2 separate regions of the Homo sapiens genome follow, and region 1 is linked to region 2. The links come from fine-mapping of genetic effects on gene expression. A gene starts in region 2. The other region holds a variant in brackets. All regions are shown on one strand. Distances are from middle to middle.

What was found.
Region 1: its variant is fine-mapped to the expression of KLHDC10 in prefrontal cortex (ROSMAP, PIP 0.90).

What each region holds. Positions count from the first base shown.
Region 1 is chr7:130,131,784-130,137,162 of GRCh38, forward strand. KLHDC10 (kelch domain containing 10) reads left to right here. Exons shown (of 10, transcript NM_014997.4): 10 at 1-3,922. Among named protein-coding and RNA genes, the nearest start is that of LINC03008, 7.3 kb to the right of the region's middle. The variant A/AAAAAAAC (reference allele first, on the strand shown) is at 3,400.
Region 2 is chr7:130,068,192-130,073,539 of GRCh38, forward strand. It overlaps KLHDC10 (kelch domain containing 10), which reads left to right and starts at 2,343. Exons shown (of 10, transcript NM_014997.4): 1 at 2,343-2,618. The coding sequence starts at 2,453. RefSeq lists enhancers at 1,858-2,057, 2,088-2,277 and a silencer at 2,378-2,547.

The DNA of each region.
Region 1 (5,379 bases), 64 kb after region 2:
ACTTGTTTCTTTTCTAATCTCTGGGCCAGGTACCTGCCATTTTCTCAGGCAGTTGGTCCTTGATTTTTCCCTTAGCTTGTTGCCTTCTTTTCCGTCTGCTTTAATGTGCATGGTGCTGTGAATAATTGTCTAGTAATTGGATACAAGGTCTTGGGGGTAAAGCCACAGGTCATCCTTCCTGAAGAACCAAGTATCATTTAAAAACTAGCATGAGGAAGGAATGAAACTGAGTAGCATTCATTTTGTGTGTGTGAAATTTTAGTTCTGGTTTGTTTGATTTGTTTTTTTTTTAATTCTAAAAAGAATGACATAAATTTTCACTCGCTTTGCCATCTGGCTGCTAGGGGAGCTGAGCAAGAGGCTCACCATGCGCATGTGTAAGCCGCAGGTGTACTCAAGGTGCTGAAGGCGTGCAAGGGGCAGCGCTGGTCCTCCCGGGGCCAACTCACAGCAGGAGACTCGCATGGGAGAGTTGGAACACATCTTTCCTTTAAGTGCCTCTTTTTTCACCTAGCTTTTAAAGTTATTCTTTGTCCTTCATCTCAGAAGGGATCTCTTTAGCTTATGTGTGGATTTAAAATGACCTTTGAGCTACGGTTAAAAAGCTACCATCTGGTGTTCAGTTCTGGGAAAGAGAAAACCGTAGCCTCCAGACATGCTCCTGATTTCTAGGCCTTATCATACCATCCCCTCTGTGATGGGTTGAGTTCATGGAGCCTGTATTCTGGGAAGTCTTATAATAACCACGCACCTGTGAACGTGGGTCCTTTCTGGGGAGTGAGGAATGTGGGAGAGAGGCAGAAAAAGGAGCAGCTCCTCTAGGGGCCCATCCTCCCACATCTTGCCATTACCAGTCTGTGTAGCACTTAACCTCCTGCCACCACTGCCAGGCTTGCTCCTCCGTTCTCTCCCAGAGCAAGTCAGTCTGAGCAGCTCCATTAGTCCAAAACAGAGCTTTGCTGCATGACTTCAGCCTGGCCTCTGGATATTTGGTGGAAATATATTCTAAATTGAACAAGCCAGGCTGTCCAGGGTGGCAAGAGGATTTTTGACCTGGATTTATACAGGGACCAAAGACTGAATGCTCAGCCTCTGTGCTTAGACTTTCATGGTCCTTAGGATAGAAGTGAGTCTCTAGCCCTGCTACACCAGAGAGCTGAAGAGAGATGTGGTCTGGTTCCATCCATACTTGCTGGCATCCTTTGTTAAGCCTTCTGAGGGCAGTCTTCTTTGAGGTAGACCTTGGAGGCCTGACATCGAAGACCTGTGTGTTTTATTTTCATAAAAGTATATATCCTTGGTCTAAAGTGTCTTCTTTTAATATAACACTAGTAAAAATGACATGGTATGACCAGCACTGAGTGCTATAGAACCACACATGTGTACATGTTCTGGATGCCAAATGAGACTGTGTGTAAATGACTAAGTGTAGATAACTAGAAATTAGATAGGGGTCATCAGGCGTTTCGGTATACCTATAACCAGCACTCGGAATTCCTGACACTGTTTACTTGATTTAGGAAAGTTTATGCCTGCTGCTTCTCTGCCTCTTTGAGGTACTCCCAGCCGTCTTACTACAGTCCTGTAAATTTAAGTGCAATATATAGAAACATATGGATATATACAGATTATATATAGGGTGTAACTATAAAGCAGGTAGACTACTTTTTTGCATCTTGGGGAAGTGAGCTCATTACTTTAGGTTCAAATTATGCCAAGAATTTTAGATGTGATCAGCTGGCTTAAGCCAACTCATGTCATGATAAAGCTGGATTTTCAAGTCCATGTTTTCTTACTCCAACTCTTAGAGACTCATTGTTCCTTAGGTTTGTTAGAGTTGAGATTTTTTTTCTCCCTGTCATCTTTGTACTCTCTCATGTTTGCATGTCTTACATTTTGTTGCCGGAGAACAAGGAAGTCCATCTGTAAGGAGTTTCCTAAACGGAGAATTAAAACCTAGTATTTAACACTAACCATTCTCCTATGTATATACTAATTTATCTGGGAATGTAATACTTTATTAAATGAAGAAAATGATGCTTTCTTCATTTAATATTTTCCACATCCTGGAAAAACTATAAACTGACACAGAATAGGTTGAAATCTTAACTGGGGCTAAACAAAACCCTTTCCATTGGCAGAATCTCCTTTTTTCAGGGCCATAATGACATGATGTAAAAATTTGCTTTAAACCATTCATGCCCTTAAATAGCTAGATTTTAAAGCATAATAAGCATATTAACATTTTTAAGCAAAAGATACGTTAACAGTGACCTTTGGTTATCCACAGTAGCAAGAGTAAAGCACAGATCATTGAAATCCATAGATAATCAGTGAATCAACTTTCCTACCAAACAATAGATTCATTTACATTTCTTTTTCCTCCCTATCCTTTCCTGTAAGCACCTGTTTTTCCATGGAATGGGGTTAATGAGTAGGTAGAAAAGGAAAAGGAATAATCAGTAGGAGCTGACAACCAGTGACCATATAAGCAGCTGATTGCCTGTAATTAGTCAGGCTGAACAATTAGAGTTGAATGCTGAAATTAGGAACCACAGGTGGTAATCCTGAGTAGATGTAGCTCTTCAGCGTCATCTCCTGCCCTGAGCTCCAGGCCATCTCTCTAACCACCAAAGAACTCTTAGTACCTACGGGAAGGAAAAGCTGTGTGCGACACAGAGGAAACTCCATTATTTGAACACATTTCTTTGGCTCTTGACAAATACTTGCTTTTCCTCTAATCTTGCAAGAGCTATGGCTCTTCTATTTTCCAATCACACAGCTTGGCATGTAGGAAAGGTTGAATGATCCTCTAAGACTGTGTTGGTCTTCGTATTCTGTAAAACCCATTTTTTTTTTGTGGTCTTACAGATGTTTAGAAAGTGGCACAGGTTACTGAATTGTCTACCTGCCAGCATTCTGATATAGCACAAAAAGCTATTTTCCTTTATTTTTTGTATTATTTTTTATTTTTCTGGCATTGAGCTCTAGGGTGGATGAGGGTTTATGGTCCTCTGATCATAAGCTCCATTCTAAAAACTGGTCACTGTTAGCTGAAATTGCTTTGGTTCCCCAAATGCCTTGGAACTCCAGACGCACCCGCAGGGCCTGAGGTAGGCTTCATAGAGTTCTAGGACTTCCGTGTGCGTTGCCACCAGATCCTGCCCAGCAATGGCCTTTCCCTTCTAAGGTCATTAGATTCAGCCAAAAGCGACCTCTTCTCTAGTCCGGTGTTACGAACAGAAGTTCTGAGTTGTGCTACAAAAGTAGTTCCATCTTTTTGGTGTAATTTTCATGTTTTTAATTTGAAAAAAAAAAAAAAAAAAAAACAACTTTTTATAAGTTTTTTAAGGGCCCTGCTTAGTCAGTGTACAGGGTGGAGTCAGAGGCAGTTTTCAG[A/AAAAAAAC]AAAAAACAAAAAACAATTTCACCAAGCGGTAGTAATTGTTGTTTTACTAGTTATACATTTAGAATATAAAGGAGGCATCAGAAAACACACTCTCTAAAGCCACTTCCTTGTGCACAGAGTCTGCACAGGGAGAGCACAGGCATCTCCCTGGAAAAGCACCTGCCAATGACGAATTTCATGGAAGAACCTAGGCAAGAAAGGAAGCCTCTTTCTGAGACACAGTCTCTGAGAGGTGAGCCTAGCTTTGCTCTTCCTACAGGGTATGCTTGGGCCATACACAATGCTCGCCTTACTTTAAAGCTATTTTGCCACAGTCCTGTTAAATAGTGTGGACGTCCTTTTGCAGTCTGGTGTGCATGCCATATGATCAGGACAGCTTTTCCACTTTACTCGGTTTCCTACAAGCAAGTAGGAAATACAGTGAATTTACCCTAAAATGTCCAATCTGTATTTATGTACCTTGTCAGTGTTTTGCTGTTGGTTTTCTAAAACAATCTGATCAATAAATCTTATCCAAATCAATTTGGTTCAAGTTCACCTTGATTGTCTAATGGTAATTTGTGTGTACGTGAGCGCACCTATATGACAGAAGCGTCAGTCCTACCCACCTCCACCAGGCTCAGCTTTTCTCTGTAATATCTGTGAGTCATCTGCCTTCCACCCCCACTCCACTGTGGGTTCTTTATCTGCTCATTATCTGGAACTCCTGGACACACAAGAGTTCCCTCACCAGCACACTGCTCCCTCCACAAAGACATCAGCAAGGGAGCAACTGTCGGGCAGCCCACACTCCCTCTCACTGCCCCACCCCATGTTCCCCAAACCACTGCTAGACAAGTTTGTATAGGTATATCAAGACTTTTCTGAAGGGTTGGAAGAGCTACAGAGAATTCAAAGGGAAAATGTGAACCCGTATATATAGTCATCTGACTGTCTTTATGATCTGAGGGAAGAGCCCCAGGAGCTGCTGAGCCCTGTGCAGGGGTCCTCTGGGGGTGAAACTACACTTCCTAGCTCTGCCCTTGGTCTTCCAGATGCTTCCCTCACCAAAACAAACCTCTGTTTTATGATGCTGTGATCTCTAATCCTCTAATCCTTCTCCATGCAGTGCTTTTCTCCATGTCTGTGTAGTCCAGAGTAGGTAGGGAAGGATACTCCCAAGTCTGGTCACTTTTAAGGTCTCCCTTCTAGAACTGAACAGATGCCTTGTATTTTTCAGTGTTTCCATTGGTTAACTATTGGATCAAACACACCTTCCATGGACAAATAATCTTAGATATTACAATATACATCTACAAGGAAGAAGAGAAACAATTTCTACCCATTCATCCACCTTACAGTTAATACTTTATTATGCAGAGCAGTCTTCTTTCCTTGGGTTTATTTCTCCTAACTATACTCCTCTCCAAGCTACCAGATATAAGAAATGCACCCTATACCTTTCAGTCTTCAGACCAGCCAGAGCTTTGAAATGGACTCTTATGTGCATCTGATTTGGTTCTTAGATAAGGCATCTAAGACCCATCTTGGCCTAGTGGGAGGAGTTTCAGTGGCCTAGTTGGTTTGCGTGGTTTTGTTCTTCCAGTTTATGTGTATATAATTCTAGTTTGTTAAAATGATGTTGTTAAGCTACTTTAACAACAACCACATTCTCTTGTAGTTAATCTTCTGCAGTAATTGCTTGAGGGAAGAAAACATTGGTAAAACCATCCAGTTTCCCTACTGCCTTCAAATGAAAGGCCAGGTTCTAGCCCAGTGCTAGAGCAATAAAGCTTTCTGCAATGGTGGAAATGTTCTGTATCTGCACCACCCAATATGGTGGTAGCCACAAGCCACATGGGGCTTTTGAGTACTTCAAATGTGGCTAGTATGGCTGAGAAACTGAATTTTTAATTTGATTTAATTTTCATGTATTTATAGGGAAATAACCACACATGGCTAGTGGCTACCTCTTAGTGCAATTCTAGGAAGAGATGACC
Region 2 (5,348 bases):
GTATGTATGTATGTATGTATGTATGTATGTATGTATGTATGTATGTATTTTTGAGACGGAGTCTTGCTTTGTCGCCCAGGCTGGAGTGAAAATGGCACGATCTCGGCTTACTGCAACCTCTGCCTCCCGGGTTCAAGCAATTCTCGTGCCTCAGCCTCCCGAGTAGCTGGGATTACAGGCACCCACCACCACGCCTGGCTAATTTTTTTGAATTTTTCGTAGAGACCGGGTTTCACCATGTTGGCCAGGCGGTCTTGAACCCCTGACCTCAGGTGATCCACCCACCTCGGCCTCCCAAAGGGTTGGGATTACAGAAAGTGTTAGGATTACAGACATGAGCCATCGCGCCCAACCAAAACTTTATATGTTATTTTCTTATTTCATCTCTCCCAGTTGATTAATTAAAAAGTGTTACTTAAGAATCTACTTTGGCTGGGCGTGGTGCTCATGCCTATAACCCAATGCTTTAGAAGGCCAAGGCAGGAGGATGGCTTGAGGCCAGGAGTTCTAGACTAGCCGGAGCAACAAGGCAAAACCACCCCCTCATCCCCACACACTGCCCTATCTCTACAAATTTGCTTTGCAAATTGGGAAAACAGCATTTCATAGGATTTCTGTGAGGATTAGACAGGTTAAACATGTAAAATGTGTAAGACTGCATTTTGCCTATATACATAAAAAACTGGCCAGACGCAGCAGCTCACACCTGTAATCCCATCACTTTGGGAGGCCAAGGCAGGTGGATTACCTGAGATGGGGAGTTGGAGACCAGCCTGACCAACATGGTGAAAACCCATCTCTACTAAAAATATAATTAGCAGAGCGTGGTGGCACATGCCTGTAATCCCAGCTACTTGGGAGGCTGAGGCAGGAGAATTGTTTGAACCTGGGAGGCAGAGGTTGCAGTGAACCGAGATCATGCCTCTGCACTCCAGTCTCGGCGACAGAGTAAGACTCCGTCTCAAAAAAAAAAAAAAACAGTTAACATATATTAATTTTGGTTTTTATATTTTAGAACCATAGGCTTTTTTTTTTTTCAAGTCTCAAACATTTTCATAAGCAGCGTGCTATGGTGCTAGTGACTAAAACATTTCTGCCTACAGGGACTGGAAGTAGGAAAACAAGGAGGCAGTGCCAGTGGCGACCAGAAATTTGCACACCAGGTACAAAGGGTATTTGTCCTCAGCTCCAGCAGAGTTTCTTTTTTTTCTCTGCAACCATGTAAGGTTCTTCTAATGCAAAAGAAAAAAAAATCTGTCACATCTAAGGACCTTGAAAAGTTTTGTTTCCCTTGAGGAATTTGATATGCTTTTTCCTTATCATTCAGAAACATCAGTGTATAGTATGTTTTCCCAGTCTGCATTGCGCCCAGTAAGTTTCAAGCCAAAATTTCTGTTTAATTTTGGAACAATAGAAACTCCTGATCGGCACATTAAAAATTTTCTTTGATCTTGATCTTCCATACCCGTTGCTGCCTTTTATTTAATTTTACATTTCCTCTTGATTATATATCTTCCAAGCTGATTAAAATTTTCTACTAGCCAAAAGGAGTTTGAGCGAACAAAAATATTTACAGAGCCATCAGCCATCTATGAGAATACCTTTTTCTTGGCATTCCACACACTGCCAGGTGTTATTTGAAAAGTCTTTACTGATGTAATAAACCAGAAATGGTTTCTCATTGGGGTTTTATTTTGTATTTCTAAGATTACAGGTGAGAGTGAACATTTTCCCATATTTGTTAACCAGGTTTAAAACTGTTTGATTGGGACGTGGCTTATACAGGGACAAATGCAGCTAAGCCGACTGAAAGACAAATGAAACCCAGGAATATCTGGTTCTTACATTTTAGCTTTGACTCCGCCCCTGGGTCCCCTCACCTACCCGGACCCCAAGCAAGCCCTTTGTGTGTGTCAACCATCAGTGAATGGGATCTCAATCTGAAAAGCTGGCAGAATACCGTCTTGCCCCCAAATATGTGTATTATGCGTATATCCAGTGTCTGATTGCAATGTTTATGGGAAAAAGTTCCTGAATCCTAACCAAGACTGAGGCACTGGCCGTCCCCGGGAGTCTTTCCGCAGGCGCGGCCTCTGACACTCGGTCTTCGATTGGCCCGCCTGGCCCCGCAGGAGTCGGGGTGACGCCGGCCAGCCCAGAGCGGACGATGAGAGCTAGGAGTGGCTGCTTCTGCCTTTCTCTCCCCCTACTTTTTTTTTTTTAGCCATAGCTATGGTTACCACGTTTCTCTCCGCCTCCCGCCACCTACCAAGAAAACGACTGACCATTGGCTGCCTTTCACCAAGGCGGTAAGTCATTGGTCTCTGGTGGGACCGGGCGCTGCCCCCTTCCCCTGTCTCCTGGGTCTCTGGAGGAGCCCAGGAAGGAGGCTCCGCTGGTTCCGCTGGGTCAGGCGCTGACGGGACCGGGCTGCGGCAATCGTTAGCGGGTCATGTCGGCCGCCCAGGGCTGGGACAGGAACCGCCGGAGGGGAGGAGGCGCCGCCGGCGCTGGTGGCGGAGGTAGCGGGGCCGGCGGGGGCAGTGGGGGCAGCGGGGGTCGGGGGACTGGCCAGCTCAACCGCTTCGTGCAACTCTCCGGGCGGCCGCACCTGCCAGGTGAGTCGTGGGACAGGGTCCTGACCGCTTGCGGGCGGGAAGGTGACTGCTACCTTTTCTTTTTCTCCCTGGCTTGCTTTTCCTTGGGAGGAGGAAAGGCAGGCCCCACGCATAGCAGAGGGACTGGGGATCAGAGAAAAGGGAAGGTGTCTTTGAGGTCAGGGAGGGAACAGGAGCACAGCGAAGAAAAGTATCTGTGCTCTGTTGAAAGCTCTGTGCTGAGAGTTGTGTTTTCTTTTCAAAGGAGAGGCCACTGTCTCATTGACATTTCCAAATGTTTCGGTTACTCGATTCCCAATCTCTTCCCCTTCCGCAGTTTGATCTTGTAAATGAAAGACATTGGCGCCTAGCTGTGGGAAATTATTTCAAAAAGGGTGCCAAGTTAAGGAGAGAAGAAGGAAACGCATTCCAAGGAGTGATTTTGTAAAAACTACACGGGGCGTGTGTGTAAGAGGCATTCTGAAACGGAAGAAAGGGGTGGGGGAGTGTTGGCTGGGGAGTGTATGGGAAAGAGAACCTAGAGGATTAGGGAAAACTAGTTGGATTATTAATATTTTGGAATGTTCAGAGACAGGATAATGGTGTCTAGGTTTTAAGGGGAGAAAGTGAAGATCAAAAATATACTTAGTGACACAATTATGCTGTGTTTACAATATAAAAACAACTGAGAATTGGAAAAATGTACCCAATACAATTATTTGACATTTTGGTCTACAGTGCCCTAGCCTTGAGTTCAGATGCTTTTGAAAACAAAATAAAATCAAGTGGATATGTATGTGTAGACAATTTTAAAGAGGTATGTTTGTAATTGAATATTCAATCTAGTAGAAGGAAGGTAGGGAATTAAATAATGCAGAGAACGTCAAATATCCCACTGGGCAAGCTTATTTTTACTATGAAAAGAACTATCAGGAATGATGTGTTAATTATTCATCGTGTTTTTTGTGAATAATATTGATTATATTAGTGATATATTTGTTTAGCTGATGAGTTTTGAGAACATGATGAATTGGTTTTTATGAATTGTGCTTAAGACTGTACCTTATACTTCTAGTCAAAAATTATTATTTGATTAAATTGAAGATGACAAAGGGAATTTAGCACATTTAATGAGACAATTGCTTATGTTCGTGATGAGGTTGTTGATGTGTGCTAGAAATGTACATTACCCCATTTATATGCATTAAATCGAGGCATTTGTAAGTAGTCATATAATATACCAGAAGTTGGGTTTGAGACGTTAATATCAGACTGGGCATCCTAGAATTGCTAAATATACGATCTTTAACATGAAAAAGAAAAAAGGAGCAATCTTTTTTCTTACTCCCAATTAATAATAAAAACTTAGATTTTTGTGTATTGGCAGCTTAGAAGATGAATCTCTTAGCAAACACTGTCACCAGTTTGCCCTCTACTACCGCAATCTTTAGGTCTTTGATCACGGATTAATTATACCATGGGCTTCAAGTAGGCATTCCTAGGTTCCTAGAACCTGCTTGGTGCACTTCCTCACTTCAACCACGTGATGGCAGTGGAAGCCATGATTTCTGCTAAGGGGCTTCAGTGTAGAGCTATTTCTGCATTCCCTTAGCACACAAGACCAAGAACAGCCATTTATCCGGAGGTAAAGATAAACGTGTCTAAACTGTGAAAATTTGTAAAGCGGGGTCATCAGTCTCTTTTTTCTGCTTCCCTTTTCTCTTGACTGACACTTCATTGCTCCTTTACTCATTCTCAAAATTGGGACACATCTGATACCTCAATGTATTATGTAGTTTGAAATTCTTTCATACCAATTCTTTATTCTGCTAGGTATTGCATTTTAAGCCTCTCCCTTTTCTTGCATTTTGATAGATTTTAAAAGATTTTAGGTGATGGGGAGGAATAGGATGTCTAGGCTTGGTTGACGGGCCTTGGAGATAAAACCTTTTATTTTAAATTTATTTATTTATTTATTTATTTATTGAGATGGAGTCTCACTCTGTCCTCCAGGCTGGAGTGCAGTGTCGCGATCTCGGCTCACTGCAACTCCACTTCCTAGGCTCAAGCAATTCTCCTGCCTCAGCCTCCTGAGTAGCTGAAATTACAGGCGCCCACCACCACGCCAGGCTAGTTTTTGTATTTTTAGTAGAGACGGGATTTTATCATGTTGGCCAGGCTGGTCTTGAACTCCTGACCTCAGGTGATTTGCCTGTCTCAGCCTCCCAAAGTGCTGGGATTACAGGCGTGAGCCACCTCGCCCAGCCAAATTTTTTATTTTTTTGAGTGTACTATAGCGGCTGGTCGTGGTGGCTCACATCTGTAACCCCAGCACTTTGAAAGTCCAAGGTGGGAGGATCACTTGAGCCTAGGAGTTCAAGGCCAGCCTGGGCAACAAAGCAAGACCACATCTCAAGTTAAAAATTAAAAAACAACAACAACAACAACAAAAAACTATAGTATAGCTCACTGTCTCTCTCTTTTGACCTCTAAATCCTATTTGTCTTTTTTTTTTTTTTTTTTTTGAGACAGAGCCTCACTCTGTGGCCCAGGCTGGAGTGCAGTGGCACAGTCTTGGCTTACTGTAACCTTTGCCTCCCGAACTCTAGCAATTCTCCTGTCTCAGTCTGCCAAGTAGCTGGATTAGAGGTGCGGGCCACCACGTCCGGCTAATTTTTTGTATTTTTGGTAGAGATGGGTTTTTGCCATGTTGGCCAGGCTGGGCTCGAACTCCTGGCCTCAAGTGATCCT